Linked DNA regions of Homo sapiens. The protein of the gene in region 1 interacts with the protein of each later gene in a pairwise test. Each region holds a gene or a part of one and is shown in the gene's direction. Other genes may lie near its edges.

What was found.
Region 2: the proteins of CCDC125 (region 1) and BMP7 interact in binary tests that used the Homo sapiens proteins (3 or more experiments, as listed by UniProt).
Region 3: the proteins of CCDC125 (region 1) and ZNF230 interact in binary tests that used the Homo sapiens proteins (3 or more experiments, as listed by UniProt).
Region 4: the proteins of CCDC125 (region 1) and RAB2A interact in binary tests that used the Homo sapiens proteins (3 or more experiments, as listed by UniProt).

The regions. Positions count from the first base shown.
Region 1 is NC_000005.10:69,322,725-69,329,944, reverse strand, and holds part of CCDC125 (coiled-coil domain-containing protein 125), read left to right. Parts: intron 1-5,232; exon of another isoform or gene 5,233-6,142; intron 6,143-7,220. UniProt on the Homo sapiens protein: May be involved in the regulation of cell migration.
Region 2 is NC_000020.11:57,256,457-57,263,676, reverse strand, and holds part of BMP7 (bone morphogenetic protein 7 preproprotein), read left to right. Parts: intron 1-7,220. UniProt on the Homo sapiens protein: Growth factor of the TGF-beta superfamily that plays important role in various biological processes, including embryogenesis, hematopoiesis, neurogenesis and skeletal morphogenesis.
Region 3 is NC_000019.10:44,005,803-44,013,022, forward strand, and holds part of ZNF230 (zinc finger protein 230), read left to right. Parts: intron 1-1,208; 5' UTR 1,209-1,276; coding exon 1,277-1,291; intron 1,292-2,987; coding exon 2,988-3,114; intron 3,115-3,281; coding exon 3,282-3,368; intron 3,369-4,466; coding exon 4,467-5,662; 3' UTR 5,663-7,220. UniProt on the Homo sapiens protein: May be involved in transcriptional regulation.
Region 4 is NC_000008.11:60,511,960-60,520,105, forward strand, and holds the start of RAB2A (ras-related protein Rab-2A), read left to right. Parts: upstream 1-5,027; 5' UTR 5,028-5,248; coding exon 5,249-5,294; intron 5,295-8,146.

The DNA.
Region 1 (7,220 bases):
CATCCTACAGCCTTTCCCAAGTGGCCAGAGGACTGGACAAAGAGCCAGAAATATTGTTTCTAGTCCTGGCTCTGCTGCTAATTACCATTGTATTTGGGGCAAGTCACGTATGCCTGGGCTGGAATAGAAAAAAATACATCCGAGCTGGGCTCGGTGGCTCATGCCTGTAATCCCAGCACTTTGGGAGGCCGAGACAGGTGGATCATCTGAGGTCAGGAGTCCGAGACCAGCCTGGCTAACATGGTGAAATCCCATCTCTACTAAAAATACAAAAATTAGCTGGGTGTGGTGGCAGGCACCTGTAATCCCAGCTACTCAGGAGGCTGAGGTGGGAGAATCACTTGACCCAGGAGGCAGAGGTTGCAGTGAGCCGTGATCACGCCATTGCACTCCAGCCTTGGTGACAAGAGCAAAATTCCGTCTCAAAAAAAAAAAAAAAAAAAAAGACTTGAATCCTGGCTGGGCATGGTGGCTCACACCTGTAATCTCAGCACTTTGGGAGGCCGAGGCAGAAGGATTGCTTGAGCCCAGGAGTTTGAGACCAGCCTGGGCAATATAAGGAGACCTCGTCTCTACAAAAAATACAAAAATTAGCTTCTACAAGAACAAAAAAATTAGCCAGGTGTGGTGGCACATGCCTGTAGTCCCAGCTACTCGGGAGGCTGAGATGGGAGGGTCACTTGAGCCCAGAGGTCGAGGCTGCAGTGAGCTGTCACTGCACTCCAGCCTGGTCAACAGACTGAGACTCTGTCCATATAAAAATAAATACTTTAATCCTAAACGTTGACACATCTATTTTAGACAGCATATATTGATATGTTGGTTCAAGTCGTCTTTTAAAAGTCAAAGGTAGGCCGGGCGTGGTGGCTCACGCCTCTAATCCCAGCACTTTGGGAGGCCGAGGCCAGCGGATCATGAGGTCAGGAGATTGAGACCATCCTGCTTAACACGGTGAAACTCCATCTCTACTAAAAATACAAAAAATTAGCCGGGCGTGGTGGCGGACACCTGTAGTCCCAGCTACTCAGGAGGCTGAGGCAGGAGAATGGTGTGAACCCAGGAGGCGGAGCTGGCAGTGAGGTGAGATGGCGCCACTGCACTCCAGCCTGGGTGACAAAGCGAGACTCCATCTCAAAAAAAAAAAAAAGTCAAACGTATAAAGTATGAAGGAACCTCTGTGTTTATCTATTCAAGATTACCATATAGTACAGAATCAGCTGTAGATATTCTTAGATTTTGTAGTACTGTTAAAATACAATATTATAAAAATGGTATATGGAAAAATACTCTAATCCTACTAATTTATTTTTATCTTTTGTTTTTCTTCTAATCTTTGTTCTAGTACAGACAACTTTGAATTCTGCTTTTTATGTTTTACACTTGTATATGTGAGCATTTATCATGTTGCTGCCTAGTCTATACTACATAGTATTTTTATTTTTATTTTTATTTTATTTTTATTTTTTGAGATGGGGTTTCACTCTTGTTGCCCAGGCTGGAGATTATTCTTAAACTATGTTAAATACACTATAACTCTAATACTTATTTAATTAATTTTGTTTAATTACATAGTATTTTATAAAGTTGTTAAACCAAGATTTAACTATTTCTTTATTGTTCAACATATTTTATTATTTTCTAATTTTGTCCAATTAGAAATTAAATGGTAGAGTAAATTGCTGAATGCATTGAACATAAAACAGGCATAAATACAGACTCATTTTAATTTAAAAAATTAAAACAAAAAAAGTCCAGGCTTGGTGGCTCACGCCTATAATCCCAGCACTTTGGCAGACAGAGGTGAGCGGATGGCCTGAGGTCAGGAGTTTGAGACTAACCTGGCCAACATGGTGAAACCTTGTCTCTACTAAAATACAAAAATTAGCTGGGCATGGTGGCAGGTGCCTATAATGCCAGTTACCTGGGAGGCTGAGGCACAAGAATTGCTACAACCTGGGAGGCGGAGGTTGCAGTGAGCTGAGATTGCGCCATTGCACTCCAGCCCTCAATAAAACCAAAAGGACACTTTTATTCCTAGCAAAACCTAATAGTCTGGAGAACATGTTCCATGGAGCACACTTTGGAAAATGCTGATACAGAAACAATTTTAGAGCTCTGAAGAACCAAAAATCTAGTCCCCTAAATTGACAATTGAAGAAAATAGTATTCAAATTCAATAAACATTGATTTGGCTACCATAGTTGATTTCAAATATATCAGTGGTGCCCAAAAATGTCCCAATAAAGTAGTTATGCTTAAACCCCTGTTAAGAAATAAAACAGGCTCTAAGAAGTTAAATGACTTACCCAAGATCAAAAAGTGGCAAGTGGTGAAGTGAGATTTGAACCCAGACCTCTCGAGTCAGTGCCTTCTCCGTTAACACATCCTGCTGCTTCCCTGGTCATCAACCCTGAATACATTAAACTGGTTGGATAGTTTAGTGACTTCAAATATTTTCACTTTCTTGGAAGTAATGTGTTTCAAAAGTGAAGTTTAATTTGTATGGTATTTCATGTTACCTTACTATCAGCATATAAAAAGTGGGAGAATAGGCCAGGCGGGGTGGCTCATGCCTGTAATCCCAGCACTTTGGGAGACCGAGGCAGGCAGATCATGAGGTCAGGAGATCGAGACCATCCTGGCTAACGCGGTGAAACCCCATCTCTACTAAAAATACAAAAAATTAGCCGGGCGTGGTGGCGGGCACCTGTAGTCCCAACCGCTCAGGAGGCTGAGGCAGGAGACTGGCATGAACCCGGGAGGCGGAGCTTGCAGTGAGCCGAGATCTCGCCAGGGCACTCCAGCCTGGGCGACAGAGCAAGACGCTGTCTCAAAAAAAAAAAAAAAAAAGTGGGAGAATATACAGTCAGCAGTCCCTGAAGTTACATTTTATTTTATTTATTTTTAGAGACAGGGTCTTGCTCTGTTGACCAGACTAGAGTGCAGTGGCGTGATCACAGCTCACTGCAGCCTTGACTTCCCACCTCAGGCTCCCGTGTAGCTTGGGACTACAGGTGTGCACCACCATGCCCAGCAGTTTTCTTTTTTTCCTTTTTTTGTAGACATGAGGTCTCACTGTGTTGCCCAGGCTGGTCTGAACTACTAGGCTCAAGCAGTCCTCCTTCTTTGGCCTCACAAAGTTCAGGGATTACAGACATGAGCCACCATTCCCAGCCTGAAGTTAAGTTTAAGAAACAGTAGGCAGGGATAAAAAACAAACAAAACAACAACAAAACCTCATTATATTCAACTCTGAATAGCAGGAAGGCGTACCCATGATGCCTGAATTTATGTGGTGCATTGAAAAATATTCTTAGCTAACTCTACAATTGCTTACTCTTTCCTTTTACAGCTTTTCCCCCTTATATTGACCAATTCCATTTTCTTCTCTGCTGCCTGCCTAATCCTGACCACACCCTTCTTAACACAGGCCAGAGGTTGCCCTTAACAAGCAGGAGTCTACTGCACTAGAGGTAAAACACAGCCTCTCAAGGGATTATTCTTTGATTCAATAAATATCTTCTTATCTACCTTGACAAAATAGGTAAATCTCCTTTTTAAGGAAATAATCTTGTAAAAGAACCAAGATGATTTTATAAAAATCTGGGAAAAAGTGGATCCAGAATCTGTTAGATGTTGCTCAAACTAGATATTTTAGACTTTTACTTTAAGTTCTATTTGAAGTCATAAATAATAGAAACTTGGTATACTCTGATGTTAATTTCATTGAAATTCTCCAAATAATACAAAACAGTGGCTAAGAGTGTTGGCTCTGACATCAGATATCTGGATTAAAAATCTGTCTCTGGGCCAGGGGTGGTAGCTCATGCCTGTAATCCCAGGACTTTGGGAGGCTGAGGTGGAAGGATCCCGTGAGGTCAAAAGTTCAAGACTGGCTGGCCCGAGACCCTGTTTCTACAAAATGAATTAAAAATTAGCCTGGCAAGGTGGTACACATCTGTAGTCCCAGCTACTTTGGAGACTGAGGTGGGAGAATCACTTGAGCCTAAGAGGTCGAGGCTGCAGTGAGCTGTGGATGCCATCACTGCACTTCAGCCTAAGCAATGAGCAACAGAGTGAGATGCTGTCTCTCTTTTTTTTTTTTTTTTTTTTTTTTTTGAGACAGAGGGTTTTGCTTTTTCACCCAGGTTGGAGTGCAGTGACACGATCTTGGCTCACCGCAACATCCACCTTCTGGTTTCAAGTGATTCTCCTGCCTCAGCCTCCCGAATAGCTAGGATTACAGGCACCTGCCACCACACCTGGCTAATTTTTGTATTTTTAGTAGAGATGAGGTTTCACCATGTTGGCCAGGCTGGTCCTAAACTCTTGACCTCGTGATCCGCCCACCTCGACCTTCCAAAGAGCTGGGATTACAGACGTGAGCCACTGTGCCCAGCCCGAGACCCTGTCTCTTAAAAAAAATCCATCTCCACTTCTGGTTGACTGTGTTACTCAGTCTCTGTCTGCTTCAGTTTAATTTTCGTACTTAATAATGGTATTTTCTTGCAGAGTGTTTGTAAAGAATAAATATAATCTAAGGCACTTAAAACTGTCTAGCACATGGAAAGCAGGCAACAAGTGCTAGGTATTATTACATCTTTTTTTTTTTTTTTTTTGAGACAGAATCTCACTCTGTTGCCCAGGCTGTAGTGCAGTGGTGCAAGCTCGGCTCACTGCAACCCCTGCCTCCCGGGTTCAAGCCATTCTCCTGCCTCAGCCTCCCAAGTAGCTGGGACTACAGGCATGCACCACCACACCTGGCTAATTTTTTGTATTTTTTAGTAGAGATGGGGTTTCACCATGTTGGCCAGGCAGGTCTTGAATTCCTGACCTCACGTGATCCGCCCACCTTGGCTTCCCAAACTGCTGAGATGCAGGCATGAACCACCACACCCAGCCTAATGAGTTTTGATAAGTGGCCACTGTGGTGAAGATATAGAAGTTTTCCATTACCCCAGAAAACTTCCCTCATGCCCTTTGTGGTCATTTCTCCAATGCCAAGCAACCATTAATTTGTTTACCATCATTGTGTGTTAGTTTTCCCAGTATTTCATACAGTATGTGCTGTTGTTTATTTATTTATTGTTTTAATTAGTGATGGGGATCTCGCTATGTTGCCCAGGCTGGTTTCGAACTCCTGGCCTCAAGTGATTCTCACACCTCAGCCTCCCAAAATGCTGGGATTACAGGTGGGAGCCACCACATCCGGCCTAGTATGTGCTTTTTTGTTAGCGTAATGTCTGGGAAATTCATTGCATATATCGGAAATGCATTGCATGTGTAATGCATATGTCAGAAATGCGTTGTTCTTTACTGACAAATATATTCTGTTGTATGGACAGACCACAGTTTCTTTGTTTTACTGCAGATGGACACTTGGGTTGTTTCCAATTTTTGACAAATTGAGTGATGTATGAATATTCATGCACACATCTTTGTACGGACATGGGGTTCTGTTTCTCTTGAGTAAATCCTGAAGAATGCAGTTGCCAGGTCACATGTTTGTAAGAAGCTATCAAATTGTTTTCCACAGTGGTTGTACCATGTTTTACTCACATCACCAATGTATGAGAGTTTCAGTTACTCCACATCCTCAGCAGCACTTGGAATTGTCAGTGCGGTGAGGTGGAATCTCACTGGGGTTTAAGTTATAATTGCCTGATAACTAATGATGCTGAGCATCTTTCCATCCATGTATCTTCTTTGATGACATATCTGTTCAAATCTTTTAAGGGTATTTGTTTTTAACATTGAAAATATATGGCATTTTGATCCTAAAAATGACAGAAATTCCTTAATACATGGTCAGATTTATTTGGTGTCTACATAAGGTTTAATAGTGGAAGAATAGAGAGATCTCCACAACAAATGCAAGACTGAGATTAAATGTCTTTCGAAGTTTTGGAAGCAACTACTTAAACAGCAGGATATTTAGAGAAAAATGTTAGACATGTTTATACCCCCACACCCCACTTTTTTTTTTAATGAGCCTTGAGAGAAGGATGAAATATTTCTAAATAGCTATAGCAAAGCAGCTGTTTTGAAATGCCTGGTGGTGAAAGTCCCTCTTAACTGCACTCTGTCCTGGAGGCACAAGGTTGAGCATTTCTGCTTCTCCCGGCTGCTTCACTGTCACCAGGTAGGTGACTAGGGTGGTCTCCACATGGGGAGGGCTCAGTGATACTAGTTGATCTGTAGGCATTTTTGCCAGGAGAAGTTTTCTGCTGGGAAGAAAGGCAGGCATAACTCCTCTGTATCTGCTGTGGAGTCCTGCTAGGGTGCCGGTTTTGTTTTTCTGCCCTAAAAGCAAGTACAGTCTAACCAAACCTGCTGTGCGTGGCCTGAGGTGGGATAGGAGCTCCGTGAGTTCCACATTGGTTGATTCAACCAACCAGGGTTGAAAATATTTGGAAAAAAAAATCCACAGTGTTCCAAAAACAAAGACGAATTTGCAGGACTCAGAGTACGAGGTTAAATCCACGGGAATGAAGTGATGTATAGGCAGTGTATTAGATATTATACGTAATTTAGAGACAATTGAAAATATATATAAAGTACACAGGAGGATGTGCCTAGATAATATGCAAATATGATACCTTTTTGATTAACAAATTAACAAATTTTTTTTTTTTTGAGATGGAGTCTTTCTCTGTCGCCCAGGCTAGAGTGCAGTGGCGCAATCTCGGCTTACTGCAACCTCTGTCTCCCAGGTTCAAGCAATTCTTCTGCCTCAGCCTCCTGAGTAGCTGAGATTACAGGCACACGCCACAATGCCCGGCTAATTTTTTTGTATTTTTAGTAGAGATGGGGTTTCACCATATTGGCCAGACTGGTCTTGAACTTCTGACCTCAAGTGATCCGCCCACCTTGGCCTCTGAAAGTGCTGGGATTACAGGCATGAGCCACCGCGCCAGGCCGAACAAAAAATTTTTTGAGATAGAATGTTGCTCTGTAGCTTAAGCTGGAGTGTGGAGGCACAGTTATGGCTCACTGCAGCCTCCACCTCCCAGAGCCAAGCAATTCTCCCACCTCAGCCTCCTGAGTAGGCGTGTGCCACCAGCTAATTTAAAAAAAAATTTTTGGGCCAGTGCGGTGGCTCACACCTGTAATCCCAGCACTTTGGGAGGCCAAGGCGGGTGTATCATGAGGTCAGGAGTTTGAGACCAGCCTGACCAACATGGTGAAACCCCGTCTCTGCTAAAAATACAAAAATTAGC
Region 2 (7,220 bases), on another chromosome or scaffold:
TTTATAGCATCTTCCCTTCTGTTGGGTACCCCGGACTCCCACTGAATGTGCAGGTCCCAGTGGCTGCCTTCAGAGCCTGGCTGGAATCATTAAAAAGGTATTTGTAATCTCTGGCTTCTGCAGAAGGCCCTGCAAACCAAGAGCAAAAAAGCCCCCAGTGCTTATGGGCCGGCAGTGTGGGCTAGGCCCCGGGGCTCCCTGTCCCCAAGAGAAAGACCAGGTTGCTCGGAGGGTGCCTCTGGGAACTTTGGTGCGGGCTATTTGCTCCCCCCATGGCGGCAGGAGCAAGCTGGGACTTGTTTGGGAAGGCCACAGCTGGGTGGTTTTCCTCCTCTGGCTGTACATACACCTTTCAATCCATTTCTTTCATCTTGAAAGGACAAAGACCGGCTTGTCTGAGCCTCTTAATCAGTCAGGCTGGCTTTGGGCTTTGTGGGACCCTGACTTTCTCAGGTCTAGCTTTCTGGGACATCACTCCAAATTAGATGGCAGAGTGGCTTTTAACAGAGCGCACTGACCTTGTTTTCTTTCTCTCTCTGTCCCTAAACTCGAGGTCATTAGTTAGGTGAAGACCTGGGCTGCAGTTTGGCGAGACACTTCCTGTAGATGCTTCTAATGTTGGCCTTTAATTTCTGCTAAGCAGCAGCACACAAATAAATGGCCTGTCCCTTCTATCCTGTTGTAGCTTGGAATTTCTCCATAGGAGGGACTTGGGGGTGGCAGTAGGGTTGGAGAGGGTTGGGGGGAGGTGTAGGAGACTTGTCTGGCCACTGAGTTTGCTGAGAAAGTACTGCTATAGTGTTTTTCCTTGGATTGCAAATCATGTTGATCTGTAGTATTCGAAGTTTTCTAAAGGCAAGTTTATTCTCACAATTTACATAAGAGTGAGAAAATATCACTTGCACATATCAAACTATTACTTCTTATTATGGTGGGAGTTTGGCGGGGGGGGCATGGGTGAGGATCTTGGCAGCCTCTGCTGCCCCTTCGCCCTGCACTGCAGAGCTCTGCTGTCTTGCAGGCAGGCGGCCTGCGTGCGCGGGAGGGGGGACCCTTGCCTGAATTCTGAAGGCTTTTGCAGACCTGGTGCATTTATTCTTCCTTCTGTCTGCCGCCAAACTGGTTTTTGTTCCTATAAGTCGTTCTTGGAATTCAAGTTTTTTGCCAGGCTGAGCGGGATCTAAACTAGAGGGGAAACTAGAGGGGAATTTACGACAAAACCAGGTGGTGGGAATGAGGACTAAAGGCCGCACCTTATGACAAAGCCCAGCCTGTACCATAAAGCCCCAGGCAATGTGAACTGAGCTGCCTGAGTGAGACTCCCATCTTCCCAGCCTGGGCCCCTTAAGTTCAATGGCAAGATTTGTAAACTGGTTTGGATTAACAACCCCGACTCCTCTTTGTAGACTTAATTTTGGAATTCAAAACAGCTACCCTCTCTTAAATAATCCCCAGGCAATGGCGACTCCGCACACTGCATCTAGCCATAGCCCGTTACCATTCTTTCTCTGGGAAGATCCAGCAGCTCTGTTAGGAATCTTGTAAAGTAGCCGGCTGGCACTAGGGGAGTGGAAGTCATCATGTTTATCTCTGGTCCAGGTAATGAAGGCATGAAATTTGTGTAATCTTTGAAGGAAAAGAAGAGAAAGTTGGAAACCTATCATTATTGGAGTCAGCCTATAAAAGTGGCTTTTGTTAATGTAGCTGAAGAGTAGGGAGAAGGCCGTGCAGTTTGATTTTTGCTTTATGCCATCTGGCTGTCCTTTTTGTTGACAAGTGTTTGGCATTAAGACCTCTCCCACTGCCCGTCAAGAGCAGGCCCTACCACTGTAGAGTATTAGAAAAAGATTCTGTTACAGTTTAAAAATTTCCTTCAGGGAGTGCTTCGCAAAGGGGAGCGTGGACTGCAGGCATTTGCAGCTGTAACCTGGCTTGTGTTAAAATTTGGAAGGGGCTGCTCCACATTCCAGCACTCGGAGCGCCGGCCCTCACTGGTGAGCAGCCAAAGGTTAATATAGATGTCACACAGCTCCCCCCTTCTTTCTTTCTGCAGAGCGCCTTTGCTATAGGAGTGCACCAACAGCTGTGTTTTTCGTAACCCTTTCAAAATCACTTCTTTTAAACCTCATTTTCCTGCTTATATAAATCAAAGATTTTCCTCCACTTTTCCCAAGCATGTATGTGACCCAGCTTTGAACTTTTTTCATTTTCTATGTATTTTCCTTCTGGAATCAAGGCAGGGTAAGGCTGAGCCCTGGATGCCAACTTGGGTGGCTGTTTTTGGTTTTGGTTCCAGGGTTGTCATTCGGTTGTGGAGCGGTCCCCATGGAAGGGGTAACAGAGATGGCCCACTTGCAAATCAGTTTCAGGGCAGCAAGGGGGATGATTGTCTGAATGCACAGACAGACGAAACCGCTTTTGAGATGCAGCCCTCTCAAGCTACGGTTTGGGGCTTTACCATGGCGTAGTAGGCTCTCAAGCCTTTGCCGAGATAAACACAGCTGGTGCGCGATCCCCTCACCACCGGAATGCCTGCGATGTGAGTGAATATCACGTGTCCGCTGAACTCAGAGACAACTGGTGACTTCATTCCAGGGAGAGTCCCATCTAAGTTGATTGATCACTCCTATCACTTTAATATCTCTCCCTCATTTGGTAAGGTCATATTTGGCCCATTGCAAGAATCAGCGTGCCCTAAGTCTCCCCCGTCTCCACCCTTCCCCATCTGCCCATCCGTGTAACAGCCTGAATATTTTGAATGGGGAGCCCTTTGCACCATGCTTCTGGCCACATTAATTCTTTCACGCTCACTCTTCAGTCTTAGCGGGGGGGCTGTTGGCACACTGGTTTCTTGGCAAGCCACTGCAAGGCTTCGCCTTAATGCACTCTGGCACTGTCACCGGGGTTAGGGCACAGGCAGGGATGTGTGGGACCTGTCATGTTATTGTCAGAAGGAATGTGCGGATTAGCCTTTACAGCGTAGTGGTGGGAGAGCACTGCAGCTGTGTACACTTATTATAAAAGATTTAAGTCCCACTGGTAAAATCAATATATTGAATTGCACAACCCTCTGCTTTTAATTAGTTTAAATCAAATGCGCCGGTGCCATTTTGCCTTCTCTCGCCTTCATGGGGTGAGGAACTACCAATATTTACATAGAAACTGTTAATTTGTGGTGAAAATGATAACACATTTAGCTTTACACACTCAAATTGCTCCAACTTGATGGATCCCAGATCAACGTGGAGTTGAGCTGAGGAGATGACGTCACCAGGAGCGGGGAGGAGACACCCGTGATGTCTGTTGCTTGGACCCTGGATTCCAGATGCAGGTGGACATGTGTGTAGAGGCAGTGACTGGGGATGCTGGTCCTTCAAGAAGCGAGCTGGTTCTTTCTATTGCAGGTCAAAAACAATGAGATTTACCTACATCATCTAAAATCCTTTCTCGGAAGCATTCTTACAAAATTGCGAAGTGGGCACTTGCTCTTGGGTCATTTTGAGCCTGTTCTCACAGCATGCAAGGGTCATGTACTGGGCAGCTCAAGGCACGGTGCTTTATTTATTCCAGAGCTTCACATGCTTTTCTTTCCAATCCCTGAAACAGTTTATAGAGGAAGGGCGTTTGTTCACTGCAAATGATCCCATGTACGACCGCGGCTATTAGTGAGCCGTTTGGTATTAGCTGTGTGTTCAAGCTGGGATTGAATTCCGGGTTTTGCAGCAAATGGCATCTGACAAATAATAATTGACAAAAAATGTGACTTGGTATTTCTTAATATGGAACAGATAGTTCATTTAAGCTTCCCCGGCAAAAAAAAAATTGCTCAAACTCAAACTGAAATAGCAATGCCAGGGAATACTAGGACTGCTGCTGTGTATTTTTTTCCGCTCCAAAGTAGAGTGTTTATGATTTGGGGGGATATTAGAGTGCATGAAGTTTGACACTTACTTATGCGAAACTCAGGCAAGCATGTGCAATACCGCCTTTTCAACATTTGTGTCGGAAGGCATTGTGGGGAGCCGCGCAAAGCCTGTGCTGATCCGCGTGGAGTGGATTGAATTAATGACAACTCCGAGAGCACCAGCTTTAGGGTAATTGCTTTATTGTTTTGGAGCCAGGGTGCATATAATCCGGTTCCTGTGCAAACATGTTGAACGTGTGTTAATGCATTTCCAAACCAGAGCCTCTCACACAACCCTGCTTTTCATTAATTGATGTCGGTAGCATGGTACAGTATTTCAAAGGGCTGGCCAAGTATAAACTGTGTTTCCAATTTCCTTCCTTTCCTGTGTTTGGAATGCCAATGTTAATTTGTTCCCATGCAGGAGCGGGGGCTGCCAACCGCGGCTTTCTATAAAGGGCTTCACAGTGAAGGCTTCCAGCCCTCGCTGATGCTTGGGGCTGCCTGGCCAAGTCTCCTGACACTTTGCAGCTAATTCTGGGTGATATATGGGGTGGGGGATTGGGGGCTTCACTGCCGTGTAACGGAAGTTCTCGGTGACAGCAGTGGGTGTGACTTGGCAAGGGAGATTGGAACGGCATCCACAGTGATTCTCTTTAGACACAGCCTAAACCTATGTGTCTGTTTCCACTATGACAGCACATTAGCTGTGTGACCTTGGGCAAGTTACTTAACATCTCTGCATTTGTGTCCTCATTTTATAAAGGCTACAAGAGAATCTCTTCCTCAACAGATTCTAAAGAAATAGAAATCATATCACCCATGCGCAGAGGCTGTCACCTAGTAGGTGTAAAACAAATGGTAGCTCTTGTTTTTATTGTGTTGGCCAGATGAAGATTTACGTTGGTATATTAGTCCAAATTTCAGTTTTTAAGTACTTAATCTTAAAATACTGAGATTAAACTGCCCATGTTATTTTAAATGTCAAGAAAATGGTCCCCAGAGTGTGAATATGTGTGCGCCTCCCTCTTTCAGAGATCAATGGAATTTGAATGAATGCACCAAACTTATTTGAGGATGAATAGAGTCTAAGGCTGAATCTTTTCCCCAATTTTAGCATCTATGGTTATTTAATGATTTTACTACTTGGGAAACTGGAACTCAGTGAGAGGGTATACCGGAACTCTCTGTAGTGCCTTTGCAACTTTGAATTAAAAATTAATTTCAAAATAAAATGTTTCATTTAAAAAATTGCATTATTGAAGTATTTCTTCCCAATCCTTTCTGGAAGATGGTCAAAGTACAAATTGTCTTTTCCTTCAAGGGAGTGACAAGCCCAAAGCATTCATTAACAGAACTGCACAACTTCCCCACTTTTTATTGGAGCAGGTGCAAGGCTGCCCAAGGCTCCCGCAGCTGGGGTTAGGCTGCAACAACAAAGCCCTGTGTGGATTCAGCATGTTTAGAAGCCTCTAGAGACCAGAGGACGAAAGAGAATGGCTTCAGGGCCAGATACCGAGGGGTGGCGTTTCTCATTCAAGACTTTCCATAAATTCCCTTCAGCTCTTTATACTGTTTGAAAAATCCGACTCACCAAGTATTAGGTTTCCCTGCATCTCTGAGGTCACGTGTTCTATCACATCTTTATCTCCCTGGAGTAGCTTTCAAGTTTCAATCTTTTGTTGCCTGGCTTAATTAAAATTGGCCACGAATAAAAACTTGCACCGTTTCCAAAATCGAGGACTTGTGTGTTTCTAAGCATTGGGTTTAGGCCTGCCCTGTCTTGTGCTTCCAGCCTGTCTTCTGCTTTCATGTAGCTTGGACTACATGAAGAAAAAGAAAAAGCTAAGCTCTTAGCATGACAGTTGGCATATAATGGTCCAAGTGCTCATCCCCCTGGCAACTTACACACACAAAGGCAGGCAAGTTTTTTTTTTTTTTTTTTTTTGGTGGCTTGTGTTTTGGCCTTCAATAAAGGACACTTTTCCTGTTTTTTTTCAGACAGCCTTATTCTCCTGCCCATGCACAGCCTTGCAGAATTCTCATGGCATAGAAGGTGCTCAGATATTGGTTGTTTCGGTGCACATATGGCATGAAGACATTCTAAGCAGTCTCTTCTAAATGCTTTTGATCTCCAATTCCCACTACTACCTTTTCAGGTACATACCTTAAATAGTAATAAGTTGTATAACTACTGCAGGATAGCTAGGATAGCTTGTGCTTCATAAAACATAGACAAAAATAGAAATTTAAGTAGGAGACACTAAAGCTAAAAGCAATACAAAATTTTGGTGTTTGTTAATTAATACAAATTTTAACTAATGAATCATTTTAATTTTAATTGTTAACACAATTTTAATTAACAATATACATTTAATTAAAATTAAATTTTAATATAATTTAATTAAGTTTGCAGTCATGAAAATTTGCGGTGCAATGGACTGTTCTTTGGTGTTTTCAAAATCATGATTTAACAGTTTAGAATCACTGATCTAAAGGCCTGGTCCCAAATTTCGATGACCCTTCATCTGGTCAGTATAAATGAAGTTATTGTGTGTGAAGAAACTCACAATCTTGGTGCGTTAAAAATCCCAGAAGTTTGTTTTTCATTTGTATCACATTATAGCTCTATCGTGGGTTCAGGGTGGAGGCGTGGAGTTCTGCACATTGGTGGCAGCAGAGTCCCTGGGAGAGGCTGAGGTCCTCAGAATGTTACGAATAAGGTGCCAGAAGGAAAGATAATGTGAACTGTGCGTTGGCTTTTAATATTTCTACCTGGGAGTGACTTTCTAACTTCAAAAATTTCTATTTTTGTCTGTTTTATGAAGTACAAATGATCCTAACTAGTAGTTATACAACTTATTTCTTTTTTTCTTTTTTTTTTGAGATGGAGTTTCGCTTTTGTTGCCCAGGCTGGAGTGCAGTGGCGCGATCTTGGCTCACTGCAACCTCCGCCTTCTGGGTTCAAGTGATTCTCCTGCCTCAGCCTCCGAAGTTGCTAGGATTATAGGTGCCCACCACCACGCCCAGCTAATTTTTGTTATTTTTTTTTATTTTTTATTTTTAGTAGAAATGGGGTTTCGCCATGTTGGCCAGGCTGGCCTCAAACTCCTGACCTCAGGTTTTATCCACCCGCCTTGGCCTCCCAAAGTGCTGGGATAACAGGCGTAAGCCACCTTGCCCAGCCACAACTTATTTCTATTTAGGGTATGTACCCCAAAATTTACTCTTCCACCTGAAAGAGCTTCTGCTCACATTTCATGGGCCAAAGTGAGCCATGTGGCCAAACCTGACCCAAGGTTGGCAAGGAGATGAC
Region 3 (7,220 bases), on another chromosome or scaffold:
CACCTGAACCCAGCAGGCGGAGGTTGCAGTGAGCTGAGATCGCGCCACTGCACTCCAGCATGGGTGACAGAGCGAGACTCTGTCTCAAAAAATAAAAAAATAAAGTCCTTATGACTGTGTCCCCTACCCCACCCTTCACCTGCAATGCCATTCAAAGTCCAGTTTATGCATTGTCTTTAGTTGTCACATTCCACAGTTTCTTTAGTCTAGAAAGATTCCACAGTCTTTGTCTTTTATAAACATGGTGGTTTTTTTTTTAATAGGAAAGTTATTTTGGAGAAAGATGTTCATTTGGAGTTTGATATATTTCATGTTTAGTTTCAGATTATGTATTGTTGGTAAGGATATTGCACAAGTGATGAGGTTTCCTCTTTATTGCAACATAACAGGGTTCACATGATGTGGTTTGTCCCTTCACTGGTGATCTCAACTGTGTTCACTTGGCCAAGATGATGCCTTTCAGATTTGTCCGCTGTAAAGTTACCTTTTTTAAAAAAACTCAAGTTTCTTATTGGAAGGTACATTATTAGTGGGCATTCTACTAAAGATGAACTTCTAGTTCTCTTCATTTATTCATTTGTTTGTTCAAGTATAAATCTCCCAACAATATGGACTCAGAATTCAGTCTTATGAAGGTAAATGACATGTGGATTAGCAATTTTTTTTCAACTCTATTGAGGTATATTTTACATAAAGCATTCACTCATTTCAGGAGTACAGTGATCTTTAGGAACTTTGTAAAGTGGAGTAACCATCATCATAATTCAGTTTAGTTATTTTTCACCCTCAGTTGGACTCTGTGCCCATTTACAATTAAACCTCATTCTCACCCCAAATCTGGAGCAACCACTAACCTACTTTTCCTCTATGTATACATTTGCCTATTCGGACATTTCATATAAATGGAATCATCTAATCCATGGATTTTGGTGACTGGCTTCTTTCTCTTATGATGTTTCCAAGGTTTGTGCATGTTGTAGCATGGGTTGGTACTTCATTCCTTTTAATTTCCAAATTAGATTCCATTATATGGATATGCCATGATTTTTCTATCCATTTACCCAGAGGAAGGCATTTTGGTTGTGCACAGTTTTGGGGTTAGTATGAATAATGCTGCTGTGATCATTCATAATACATGTGCTTGTTGCTACACAGCCTCCCCAGCCACCATTTCATGTCTCTCTTTTGCTGTCTCTGGCATTTTCCAGGCACAATTCCACCTTCCTTTGTGCTCCATTACTCAAGACACTGAAGACTCCAAAAAGTAGTAGGAAAAATGACCACATTCAAGGTGAGTAGAGCTCACCTCTCTTGCTATTAAAATTCCATCTTATTGCTCATATTGTCATATATTTTTCTCTGTCTTGGGAAGACTCAAGGAGGAAATGGGCATTTGGGACCTGTTGTGTGCCAGTTGCTTCCTTTGTCTCTTTTGTGTTGACTTTGCATTTGGTTTTTGGTTTGGGTTTTGTTTTGTTTTTTACTGTTACATTATGGAGTAGAAAAATTAGTAGGAATGAACAGTGCTCCCACTTCTTCACCTCCTTGCTCTCAAATTAGCCTGATTTTTCTTCTTGTGCTGTTCCTTGTACATTCATAACTGTATTTGTATTGATGATGGAGTTCCTTATGTCAAGAGTGCTCTATACACCAAGATAACATGTCCTTCTGGTTTTCTTCATACTTGTCCATCAGATAGTTAGTCCCCCTTTCTGTGGAGGCCCACATTGCGCATGTTGGCTCCATTTCTCTTAGATGCTCCAGGGACCCTCTGACCCACTTCACCCACCTCCTGAGTCCTCTGGCCCCAGGAATGAGCTATTATTTAAGGTGTCGCAATCAGCGGATCACACACCAAGCTCCTGTGTTTCCGTATTCTGTCCTTCTGTCTCAATCCATGCAGCCAGCTCACATCTGTGGAGGGGTGGCCTGTGTCCCGCTTATCATTCTGTCTTCTTTATAAATCATCAAGCTGCTGTCCAGCCTGCGCCCCCAGGCTGCCATCACAGCACTGGGCCAATTGCCCAGGATATAAGTGCTCCCCCTTTGCCAGTCCAGAGTTCTGTCAAATTGGACCCTGCTGGCTGCACCAATTCCATGGAACAGGTTCACTAGTTACAGACTTGGCGAGTCTACCATGAGAGAGCACACTCATGTATGACAAATTACATAAAGCAGATTTATTACATGTAGGTAGCAAGGGACAACAGAAGCCTATGATCCACTGTGAGCCAGTCCTCCAAGGCTTAAGAAAGCTGCCTAGAGTGGGTGGAGTCACGACTGCACTTGCCCCATTTGCACCATAGCTGAGGCACCCCAAGAGGCAGCCTGTCCCAGGCTATATGCCTCAGGGGTAACATGACTTACTGAGCAGTTCCTCTCTAACTCAAGATATTATCTTTTATGGATTGGACTAGAACCAAAGAAGGCATAAAAAAAAATAAAAAGATGTTATCTTCCCTGGGAAGGACACTGCATAACTAGCACATTTATGGTTATTCTTGAGACCTATAAACAAGAAAGTGGGGAGAATGGATCCAAGGCTACTTTGAAAATAGTTACCTAAAACCTGTTAGTTTGGCAAATACTAAAGAAAAGTGATAGCATCCAGGGTTTGGGTCTGAGAGAGGAGGACAATAAGCCTCATCAAACAAGGTTGAGACTGAATTGCTCATTGTTGCTGGGGCAACTGGGGCAATTGGCAAAATTCATTGAAACCTATATAGGTGTAGCCCAGGATGCACCATTTGAAATCCTAAGGGGTTACTTACAAGGAGACTCAGTAAGTGCACAAAGTAAAAATACAGGAGGTCTTTTTCATGATTGCACTTCTGGTGGAGCTCAGGAAAATCACTGTCAGGATACAGACAGAATGAGTGGGAAATCTATAAGTTGACCTCCACTTCTCCTCTCCGCCTGCTCAATGCTGCTCCTCCCCCAGTAGTCCATGGTCATAGGATTGAGGTTATGTATCCTTGATGTTATAGGAGGCAGTGACCTTCAAGGATGTGGCTGTGTTCTTCACTGAGGAGGAACTGGGGCTACTGGACCCTGCCCAGAGGAAGCTGTACCAAGACGTGATGCTTGAGAACTTCACGAACCTGCTGTCAGTGGGTGAGCACAGGCACCCTCTGTAATGGTACATCAGGCCTCAGGAGTGGCTTTGTATCCTAGAGTATTCAAGTTTGTGTATGCAGTGGGAACTTAAATTTCCAGTAAATTTTACCTTGATATTACCTAGAATGAATTGGTATTAAGCACATGACTTTGCATGTTCACAGGGCATCAACCATTCCACCCTTTCCACTTCCTAAGGGAAGAAAAGTTTTGGATGATGGAGACAGCAACCCAAAGAGAAGGAAATTCAGGTAAGAAGCAAGCAACTGTGTGTCCTTGTACATGACTTTCTTTCCCATTTGTTTTACTTCTGACCATGCCCACTTATATCACCCTGATCTAAATTGCCCAATCTCTTTCCTGGTTTATTACAACCCCTTTCTGGCTGGTGGTCCTGTTCCCTCCCTTCCACCCTGACATCTATTTTCCCCCGAGCAGCCAAAATGATCCTTGGGAAATGCAAGTCAGTTTTCCACTCCTTGGTCCAAAAGCCTTTATGGTTTATTAATGTTATTAAAGTTACAACCTCTTTATTGGCTTTTAGAGACCCTGAGGTTTGTTCTTCATCCCCTGCTGCCTCTTGACTACATCTGTCCTCTCGCCCTTGCATCATCTTTTCCAGCCACGTTGTCCTCCCTGCTGTTACTCTGTCCTGTCATGGACACTGTATTCCCTGTTGCTGGTAACAAATAACAGACTTCACAGATTAAACAACACTTTTGTTCTTTCTGACATGGGGAGGACGGTCTCCCACCCCTCACCCTCGAAAGGAGTGGCCAGCCACAACCCTAAATCATATTGTTTCACTATCCAGAGTGATCCAGAGTTGGCACCCTAACAAACAAAGACACTGTCCTCCCGCATGATATGTCAGGATCCTAGAGATTACCTCTCAGATGCTGAGGACAAAGTTCTGACTTCTTTTTACTTAGGGTAACTTCTATATAAGGATATACAACATAAACACAGATATATAAACTATTGATTTTGTTATTGTTTTTCCTTAAATTTCCTTTTGATTTATATTTCACTATGAACATAATGTTTTAATTTAGTAATTTATCATGCAAGATTTTTGACTGACCAGAAAATTCCTTAGAAATAGTAACAAATTAAATGTATATATTATATCAGTTTTTTAATGGAGTCTGTTATTTCCATCAAGGATTTTACATATGAGACATGGTGTGGTTATAAATTGGTCACATACAAACCAGAAAACAAGATTCATGGGGAAAACATAAACTGAACATTCATTAAAGTTGAATGCCATATCCTAAGTGTGAAATCTTAAAAACACCAAACAAAGGCTTCATTTGTCCACATCTCTTCATTCTGTGTCCTTATAGGCGGCAAGACTATTGCGGAAGCAGGACCACATGAAGACTGCCCTTGCCAGCAAATCTGGGAACAAACTGCAAGTGACTTAACCCAGTCTCAAGACTCCATCATAAATAATTCTCACTTCTTTGAACAAGGTGATGTCCCCTCCCAGGTTGAGGCAGGACTATCTATAATTCATACAGGACAGAAACCTTCACAGAATGGGAAGTGTAAACAGTCCTTCAGTGATGTTGCCATCTTTGATCCTCCTCAGCAGTTCCACTCAGGAGAGAAGTCTCATACATGCAATGAGTGTGGAAAAAGCTTCTGTTACATCTCAGCTCTTCGTATTCACCAGAGAGTTCACTTGAGAGAGAAACTCTCTAAGTGTGACATGCGTGGTAAGGAATTCAGTCAGAGCTCATGTCTGCAAACTCGTGAGAGAGTCCACACTGGAGAGAAACCATTCAAATGTGAGCAATGTGGGAAAGGCTTCAGATGTAGAGCGATACTTCAAGTTCACTGCAAATTACACACAGGAGAGAAACCTTATATTTGTGAGAAATGTGGGAGGGCCTTCATTCACGATTTCCAGCTTCAGAAACATCAGATAATTCATACTGGGGAGAAGCCGTTCAAATGTGAAATATGTGGTAAGAGCTTCTGCCTTAGGTCAAGTCTTAATAGGCATTGCATGGTCCACACAGCAGAGAAACTGTACAAATCTGAGGAGTGTGGAAAAGGCTTCACTGATAGCCTAGATTTGCATAAGCATCAGATAATTCACACAGGACAGAAACCGTACAATTGTAAAGAATGTGGGAAGAGCTTCAGATGGTCCTCATATCTTTTGATCCATCAGCGAATCCACAGTGGAGAAAAACCATACAGATGTGAGGAGTGTGGGAAGGGCTACATTAGTAAGTCAGGTCTTAACTTGCACCAGAGGGTCCATACTGGAGAGAGACCTTATAATTGTAAGGAATGTGGGAAGAGCTTTAGCCGGGCTTCAAGTATTTTGAATCATAAGAAACTCCACTGCCGGAAAAAACCCTTCAAATGTGAGGATTGTGGAAAGAGGCTTGTACACCGGTCTTTCTGTAAAGACCAACAAGGAGACCACAATGGAGAAAACTCATCCAAATGTGAGGACTGTGGGAAGCGCTACAAGAGGCGCTTGAATCTGGATATAATTTTATCATTATTTTTAAATGATATGTAAGTTGTACATATATATGGGATATGGTATGAAATTTTAATATGTGTATATAATACGTAATGATCAAATTGATGTAATTAGTGTATTACCTTAAACAATTAACATTTCTTTGTTTTGGGAAAATTCAAAATCCATTGTTCTAGCGATTTGAAAAGAAACAATAAATTATTGTTGATTATAGTCACCTTTGGTGCTTTAGAACACTAGAATGTATTTCTCCTATCTAGCAGTACTTATGTATCTTGTTACCCAATCTTTGGCTATCTCACCTAACCCCTACACTTCCCTGCTTCTAGAACCACTGTTTTACTCACTAATTCTATGAAATCAACTTTTTTAGCTTCCATATGTGTGTGAGGACAGTTAGTATTTATCTTACCTTGCTTAGCTTATATTGTTTAACATGTCCTCCAAAGCTCATCTATGTTGCCACAAATGACACAATTTTGTTTTCTTTTTATGCCCAAAGAGTATTCTATTGTGTATATATGCCACCTTTTCTTCATTTATCTATTGATGGACACATAGGTGGGTTCCATATCTTAACTATTGTGAAGAATAGTGCTCCAATGAACATGGTAGTGTAGATATCTGATCCACATACTGATTTCCTTTGCTTTGGATATACTCAATAGTGGGATTGCTAGATCACTCGAATCTTATGCCTCAGAGGCTTGACACAAGAGCAAAACTATGGAAGTGTGGCTAGGGTGATATGGCTTCATACCACCTCAGGCCTCAAGTCCTCAACTGCACCAGAGTGTCCACGTTGGACAGAATCCTTAGTAATGAGGTGTGTGATAAAGTCTCTGCTCAGTTGTCTATAATCTCATTTGAGAGTTCACAAAGGGGCAAAACATTAAAAAGAGGCATATGGTAAGCACTTCAGTGTGTGTTTATATCATAATTTATCACAGTCCATACTGATAATATATTTCATCCAGGCTTGTAGGACAGAAAACATTTGTTTAAGTTAAATTCAGTGTTTCACCATAGCTCAGCATTCTCCCATCATCCTAGGACCATCGTAGTAGAGAACTCTTGTAAATTGTGCAGTAGGGTTGCAAACAGAACTTACGCTTGTCATTCAGGAGACAGGCCTTAGAATAAGAGTTTGTTCACACATTTACAAAACCCTAATGATGAACATGTCAAAAGTGGTGACCACTAGAATGTCAACTACAGGTACCTTGTTTTCTGCATCCTCAGGACCTTAACACTGATTAGCACTTACATGTTTAGTATGTGTTAAATGACTCAAAAGGAGAAAATATGATATTTTAAAATTGCATCTAGGAGAGAAAATCTACAAAAAATAATTCAGGGACACGAGTTAAAATGCAGAATACACTCAGTTCTGCAATCCAAAGCATTATTTTGGGTAATCTTACCCTGTTGCACTTGGCTGCTGGCTTCCCCTCATCCTCTGTTCTGAAGTTTACTACTAGTGGCTTTGTCTAATGCTCCATTGGTTGCATACAATATAAATTCAACAATCATTTGTAACTCTTCTCACACTACAGGCTGAAAATGGTTTGTTAACTTGTCAATAACAGTCCAC
Region 4 (8,146 bases), on another chromosome or scaffold:
TCACTGCAACTACCCCCGAGTTCAGGTGATTCTTCTGCCTCAGCCTCCCAAGTAGCTGGGACTACAGGTGCGTGCCACCATGCCCAGCTAATTCTTGTATTTTTAGTAGAGATGGGATTTTGACATGTTGACTAGGCTGGTCTCAAACTCCTGACCTCAGGTGATCCACCTGCCCCGACCTCCCAAGGTGCTGGGATTACAGACATGAGCCACTGCGCCCAGCCTCCTGTGGTTTTTTGTTTTTTGTTATTGCCAGTTGTGAGAGTTGGGGCAGAGGGAGAGATATATTTCCTTTGCAGCTACAGTTCTTATTAACAGGTTGAAGGTGGAGGAGGACAAGGAGGAGAGGAAAGGAAGGGGGAAACAACCTCAATGTTTAAGAAGTGTCCTCTGTGTGCTTGACATAGTGCTAGACATTTTATATATGTCATCTCAGAGGGGAAACTAAGGCTTAGAGCATTTAGTAATCTATCAAAGATCACTCAACTGATGTTGAGTGGTAAAGTCAGGATTTGAATCTAATTATTTCTTCTTCCAAAACTGGTACTGAGTTCCGGTGTGGTGGTTCACACCTGTAATCCCAGCACTTTGGGAGGCCAAGGCAGGTGGATCACTTGAGGCCAGGAGTTTGAGACCAGCCTGGTCAACATGGCAAAACCCCATCTCTACTAAAAATACAAAAATTAGTCGGGTATGGTGGTGTGCACCTACAGTCCCAGCTACTTGGGAGGCTGAGGCATGAGAATCGCTTGAACTCAGGAGGTGGAGCTTGCAGTGAGCTGAAATCGCACCACTGCACTCTAGCCTGGGTGACAGAGAGAGACTTTTTCTAAAAAACAAACAAACAAACAAACTGGTACTGAGTTTAAGTATTTGCTGGAAAATTAGTTCTGTTATGGTACTTGGAGATGGCTGAAGGAAGGCATTTCACAATTGTTCTTAATTATTTCTGGGTCATGGAAGAATCTCTCCCATAAAAGTGTACATGTGCAAATATATACATCATTATCAGTTTTGCATACCATTTCAGAAGGAGTGGCTAAGGAACCATGGAAACCAAGGCAAAAACCTCAAGATTACAGTATTCCCAACCACCTTCTCCCATTCCACTCCACCCTATCCCTCTTCCCAAAGCCTGAGAGTAATTAAAACCAAAGAAAATATAAACATGAAAGTTTAGTTGGGAGAAGCAAATGCAAACTTCTAATATAGTATTGTACTCAAAAATGTCATGGAGAACTTGATTAGGAGACACTGAAGAATGTAGTGCTACAATCTTGAAATTTCACAGTTATGACCTTCAGACCATATATGATGTAAGGCTGAGAGACAGAGTTACCACAACACATCCTAAGAGACTGAAAATAGCCGAAAATCAAACTGAATGGAAAATTCCAGGAAGTATACTATATTTAATGGAAGAGAGGTTTATTTCTGTTATTTTGTCTGGGGGACTTTTCTTGAAAAATATGTTTGGATTTTTATGGGCTAAAGAAAATGTTTTAAATGAGGTTTATGTGATTTTTATTTATACCCTGTATTTTTTCGAAGATTTAAGAGATTATAGGTTTATAGAAAATATAACAAAATATTATGAATCATACATAGGAAAAAAGGTAGAGACATAAAATAGAGCCAGGAACAAACTTAATTTTAAACCATGAATTTATATAGTGATTAGGCCTTTAGTTCCTCAAGTTAATTTCTTTTTTTTCTTTTTAATTTTCTGTAGAGACAGGATCTCACCATGTAACCCATGCTGATCTTCTTGAACTCCAAGGCTCAAGGGATCCTCCAGACTTTGCCTCCCAAAGTGTTGGAATTACATGCATGAGCCACCGCACTCAGCCCCTCAAGTAATTTCCAAAAATTATGCAGTGCAAAGAGTTTTATGTATTAGGTATACATTTTTCATAATTTACACAGTATTTTCACATACATTATCTCATTTGATCCTAAATGGACTTTGTTAAGCAGTTATTATCCACATATTCCAAATAAGGAAACTGAAGCCCAGAGAAGAACTTGAAAATCCTGTTCTTCAAGGTGGGAGAATTGCTTGAGGCCAGTAGTTCAAGACCAGCCTGAGTAACAGAGGGAGTCTCCATCTCTCCAAATAATAATAATAATAATAAATGATATAGGCGTGGTGGCATGTGCCTGTGATCCCAGCTACTCAGGAGGCTGAGGCAGGACAATCACCTGAGCCCAGGAAGTCAAGACAGCAGTAAGCCATGACTGGGTCACTGTACTCCAGCCTAGATGACAGAGCAAGACCTCCTCTCAATCAATCAATCAATCAATCAGAACAATATGCATTTGACATCTATGGCCCCTGCATTTTCACGAGAGGATTACTACCTTCTTTACAGATGGCTTTAGATTTGGAGGCTGGCTAAGCATAAAATTAAAAGACGTCATGCTTGGAATAGCCCTTTTAAGAAACACTTAACTCCTTTACTTAATAGACAAGTGCACTGAACCACTCATAATTTTTTAAATTATTTTTATTTTAATAATTATTTTATTTATTAAGACACAAGGTCTCAATCTATAGCCCAAGCTGGAGTGCAGTCGCACCATCCTAGCTCACTGCTGCCTCAAACTGCTTGGCTCAAGCTATCCTCCCTCTTCAGCCTCCCAAGTAGCTGGGACCGCAGGCACAAGCCATCGCAACCTGTGCTCTGAAGCTTTAAGAGGCCAAACGATTCCTCACATTCATCCGATCAGTTACAGGTAGAGCCAAGACCAGAAGCCAGGTATCCTATTTTCCTTATAACACATTGCCTCTATAGCTTTATATCCATTTCTATGATTTTTGTTACATACCCAGTTCTGACCATTTCCTGTCACAATTTCCTTTGTCTACTAAGTAAAGTTCTAAATGCATGGTGACATAACATACAAGGCCCTACATAACCTGGCACAAGAGACCTCTCCAGGTACTCTCCTCCTCTAACAGTGTAGGAATACTCCTGACTCCTAGGATGCCAGGCATTTGTATAACATCCTAATAGAGTTGTGCTGGTGAAGGAAGGCCACATCCCTCTATCTTGTGAGAGTGAAGACTTGAGTTTCTCCATCACCAAGGAAGACTTGGGTGAAGGCACTCAAGTGGGAGGGACAAAATGACATCTGAAAACTGGAGGCCTTGGGCAGGGACCTCCCCTTCCTCAAACTAAAGGTGAATGAACCAAATTTTGCGATTCCAGGTAGCTTTTCATGTCAAATTTTCATGTCAAATTCTTCCGTGCCATCTCTGACCCTTTAGTAAAATCCCCTCCAAATATTCCAGAAAAACCTTGTGAGTTCATATTTGGCAAGGCCATCCAAAGCATGTTAGCAACCCAGCATGATGGTGTCAGTACTAATTACATAATGAGAGGCCCCAAAGAGAAGAGTATTAGGCAACAGGAACGAGGGCCACTAAATCCCAATCGCTTTTCCCCAGCAATGATTCTCCTTCAATATGAGGTTATGGGTTATGAGGATATGAGTTAGTCAATTAGCTTCCTTATGCAACTTCAAATTCCCTGAACAGATCCAGGAATTTTGCACATTCTGTTCCTTGTCCATAAACTTTGGTTCCCCTCCCCAAACTGTTGTTCTTTCGACAAACTCTATACATAATTCATATTCCTGGCTCAGAAATCATAATCTCTAAGTAACCTTTCCTGACACCCTATTCTCCACCTCCTCTTCCATAACCTGTGGTCTTTTTGAACAGAGTGGTGACATTTTGGGCTGGATGACTGAAAAAGCAAAGTAGAAAAACAGAACATAGAACATACAGGGCCTCCAGTTGCTGTGCCTGGCGGTACATGAAACATAGTATTCAATAACTATTCTTTGAATGCACAGTCATTTTGTTTTTTCCTTTAACAGTATTTCCTAATAGGTAACTCATGAACACTGCAAAAAATGTCAAACTGCACAAAAAAATTCAGGGAAAAGTACATTTTCCCCCCAATCCCATTCCCTCCTTTCTCTTAATACCAGTTAGCTTTCCTTTCAGATTGATTATGCATATATGGGTATGTAAATGTTTTCCCACTATTTGTTACACATAAAAATTATATACAATTCATATATTACATATGGTGCATGTTATATACACACACATAAACAGATCATCTCGGTTTTGCTTAACCTAAGTCAGGCTTTTTTTTTTTTTTTTTTTTTAGAGCAGCCCTCAGAACCAGGACAGGTTCAGAGACTTTATTTATTTTTTATTTACTATTATTATTTTGAGACGGAGTCCCGCTCTGTCGCCCAGTCTGGAGTGCCGTGGTTCAATCTCGGCTCACTACAACCTCCACCTCCCAGGTTCAAGTGATTCTCCTGCCTTAGACTCCGAGTAGCTGGGATTACAGGCGAGCACCACCACGCCCGGCTAATGTATTTTTAGTAGAGACGCGGTTTCGCCATGTTGGCCAGGCTGGTCTCGAACTCCTGACCTCAGGTGAGAGCAACGTAGTACTCCACTGTGCGTGCATACCATGATTTACTTTGCAGTCCCAGATTTACGGTTTCCAATTTATAAATACTGCCATTTTCACCTTCAAGCCCCGATGCCAAACACAGAAATACCAGGCCACCCCCACCCCCTCGCCGTGTGCCTCCCACATTTTCACACACATTTTCAGGAGCCCAGGGCGCAGCCTCACACCGAACGCCGCCTCTGCCGTCCCCTCACTTGCCCCGTGCCCCCACCGCAGGGCTGAAGGCGACGGAACCGAGCCTTTGTACCCCCACCAGCCCCGTTCCCTGGCGTCTCCCGGCCGCCGGGCTCGCCCGCTCAAACGTGGCGGAACAACCGGAGCCGGGCCCCGCCCTGCTGGAAGACAGGGCGGACCGGGCAAGGCAGGCGCGGGGCGGGGCGGGGCGGGGCTCCGGCTGGCGGGGCGCGGCCAGCGTGCAGGGCTGGGCCAGCGTGCGGGGCTCCTCCCCTTTCCTCCGGCGGCGCCGGCGGCCGCAGAACTTCCGGGTCGGCGCGGAGGCGGGGCGGAGGCGCCGCGGCGGCTGTTATTGTTCGGCTGGGCTCGGTCGGGCGCTGTCTCCCTCGGCTCTGCGGGTGTCAGTTCGTCCGGCTTCCTCACAGCCCCTCACTCCCGGCGGCTGACAGCAGCAGCGGCGGCGGCGGGCGGCGCCTGGCGTTTCGAGGCTGAGCGGCACCGGGGTTGGGGCGCGGAGGAGGAGCAGCAGCGGGAGGAGGAGCCGTGTGCCCTGGCACTGAGCGGCCGCGGCCATGGCGTACGCCTATCTCTTCAAGTACATCATAATCGGCGACACAGGTGAGGGCCCCGGGCGCGGCCGGGCGGGTGTCGGCGGCCTCCGGACCCGGGCTGAGGGGCAAACGGCGTCTGGCGGTGGCGGGGACGCGGACTCCACCCGGCGCCTCCCTCCTGGCCGCGCCGCTCCATTTCCGCAGTGCTGGAGCTGGTGACGTGGGCACTGCGAGCGGCCGCGGCCTGGCCAGGCCCGGTCTGCGGCCCCCGACCCGGCCAGTCTTGCAGCTGAGGGCCGTGGCAGCCGTTTGCGACGCCCGATTCAGGAAGTGTGTGACAGGAGGGGAGGCCTAGCGCAGGGCCGCCGGGGCCCGACTCACATGACTGCACCCCACCCCCAGGGCCCCTTGCGTTAGGTCTCTTCGCGGCCCCAGGAAAAAGAAGGAGGGAAACCTAGGGGAGCAGAAGGTGTTGGGGCCCGGGTCTTGGTTCCTGACCAGTCCAACCTTCCTCCACCAGCACGCATCTATCAAGGCCTGGGCAAGGCGCTTTTTGGCGTGGGACAGGCAGCCGAGAAAGAGAAAAGGAAACCTTTAAAATATGTATTTTATATATATACATATATATAAAATATGCTTTTTTAACACCTTCAACTCTCACGTCAGAATAAGTCACATCTCATTACTTGACGGCTGGAGAATCCCTTTCGGGGTTAGGAAAGCATGAACGAGTTCTGTGGACTTTTGCCACGTGTGAACTGGGGTTATATAGTAATGTAAAGTCGTTCAGTGCTCTGGGTGTGTACTTAGGTATGTGTATGTTGAGGACGCTGATGTTTTAGATATGTCAAGTCCGGTGTCACAACTGCTAATTTTCAGGTGAGCTCATGTCCATGAGCTGAAAGAAATTCAGTTATTCTCACTTAAAATGACGTCCTAGTATATTTCACAGAAAAGTAAACAGACTCTTCGTAGATATTTTTAATACCTGTGATTTGGCATTACTTTGAATCTAATAATAAACATAAAGATTGTTTAGATGTTGCAACTATTAATATACCAGAGTCTGATTTCAGTGGTTACTCTTGCACAACTTTGGACCCTTTGCACAACTTCGGTCATGTAAGCAGCAGTTTGTAGTTGAACTAATGATGTGGCAGGTTCTATAAGTAACTAAAGAAGCATGTTGGCCGGACGCGGTGGCTCACACCTGTAATCCCAGCACTTTCGGAGGCCGAGGTGGGGGATCACCTGAGATCAGGAGTTCGAGACCTGCTTGGCCAACGTGGTGAAACCCCGTCTCTACTAAAAGTACAAAAGTTAGCCGGGCGTCGTGGCAGGCGCCTGTAATCCCAGCCACTTGGGAGGCTGAGGCGGGAGGATCACTTGAGCCCGGAAGGTGGAGTTTGCAAAAAAAAAAAAAAAAAAAAAAAAAAAGCATATTTATTGCTGCCTGAAAGAAAAAATTTCTGCTAGATACATGAGTTTTCAGCAAGGTTTTCTGATGCGTGCGTGCGTGTGTGTGTGTGTGGAAATTGGATTTGTAAACTTTAAAAGAAAAATGCTGTGGTGTATTTGGAAGAAGGAGAATTCTAAAGTCTTCTGGCAAAATTTCATTTAGGCTGTAAAAACAAGATTGGAGAGGAATGCCACATTAACTGTAATATGAGTGGGTTTGAGAAATAGAAGCTTGTGACTGTGGCATTTGGCTATCTCATTAGTGGTGAAAATTCAAATCAGACTTTGCTGGTTGCCTTTTTTCAGTTTTTTATTTGAGGCTGTACTGTGGATAAATAAAGTATTGTGCATGGAGTAGTGGGGCTACAAATCCTAACAAGTTAATGCTCTGTTCTCTTGGAATTTGCTCTTATCCAAAAGCAGTCCCCACGCAATTCAAAGGGAAGACACTTCTTTCTTGTCATTGCTGCTGATACGACCTAGTTCAGGAACAGAATTCTTGACACTGTTATAGTCTGCAGCAGTACTTCTCCCTACTCCAGTTCAGCCAGTGTAGTTTACTGTCAGTTTAGTCATCCTGAAGCATGAATGTCAAAAGGCTACTCCTGTTTGCTCACAATTTTTAGTTTGACCTTCAGTGAACTCTATATTTTAGCCCCTATCTACATTTCTCGCCTTCTTTCCCGCTATTCCCCACCTTGCTTCTGCCATTGAGTCCCAGTGACTGATTTTGGTGTTTTTTTCCTGGGCACTGCTAGTCTCTATTCTTAGAGTGCTTTCCGGCACAATCTCTCCCTGTGGAAGATCCATCAGTCCTTCAAAGTCTTATCTGAGTTTTCCGTAATGCCTTCACAGTCAACATATATTAAGCTCTTATTGTGTGAAGATTTTCACAGTATCCTGGCTGAAAGTGACTACTCCGTTTCTGAATTTATGTTTCTCACTTTGTGTCATTCTTCTGATATTGATCCCAGACTTTTCTGTTGTATAGATACTTGTATAGGCACCTCTATTATGTAGGTACCTATTATATACTTCTTGAAGTCAGAAAAGATGTTTTGTATGGCTCTGTATTTCTTTCAGGAAGAGCGTAGTAGAAGGTAGGCCCTGTATATTTAACTAATAAGAGAGGAGCCAAACAGGCTACTATATTCCTGTTTGTATATATTAATAACTTAACAGAAGTGGTGTCGTTGTTGTTGTTGTTGTTGCCCAGTTCTGCCACCTTCTTGCTTACTAATTTGGGCAAAATCCTTTACCATATTTCTTTAATGCAGAGTGTACCCATAGTTGTAAGATACACTCAGTGTGGCCCTCCCCTAGAAAAGATGACTTTAAAATCAGTAATGTGAGATCCACTTTGATTTTTTAAAAAGTCAGGGTCAAAAACATGCATCTTAGAATGAAGGAAATCACCTAATTTTTCTGTTTCCCTGTTTCCGTAACCTATAACCTTCTCTC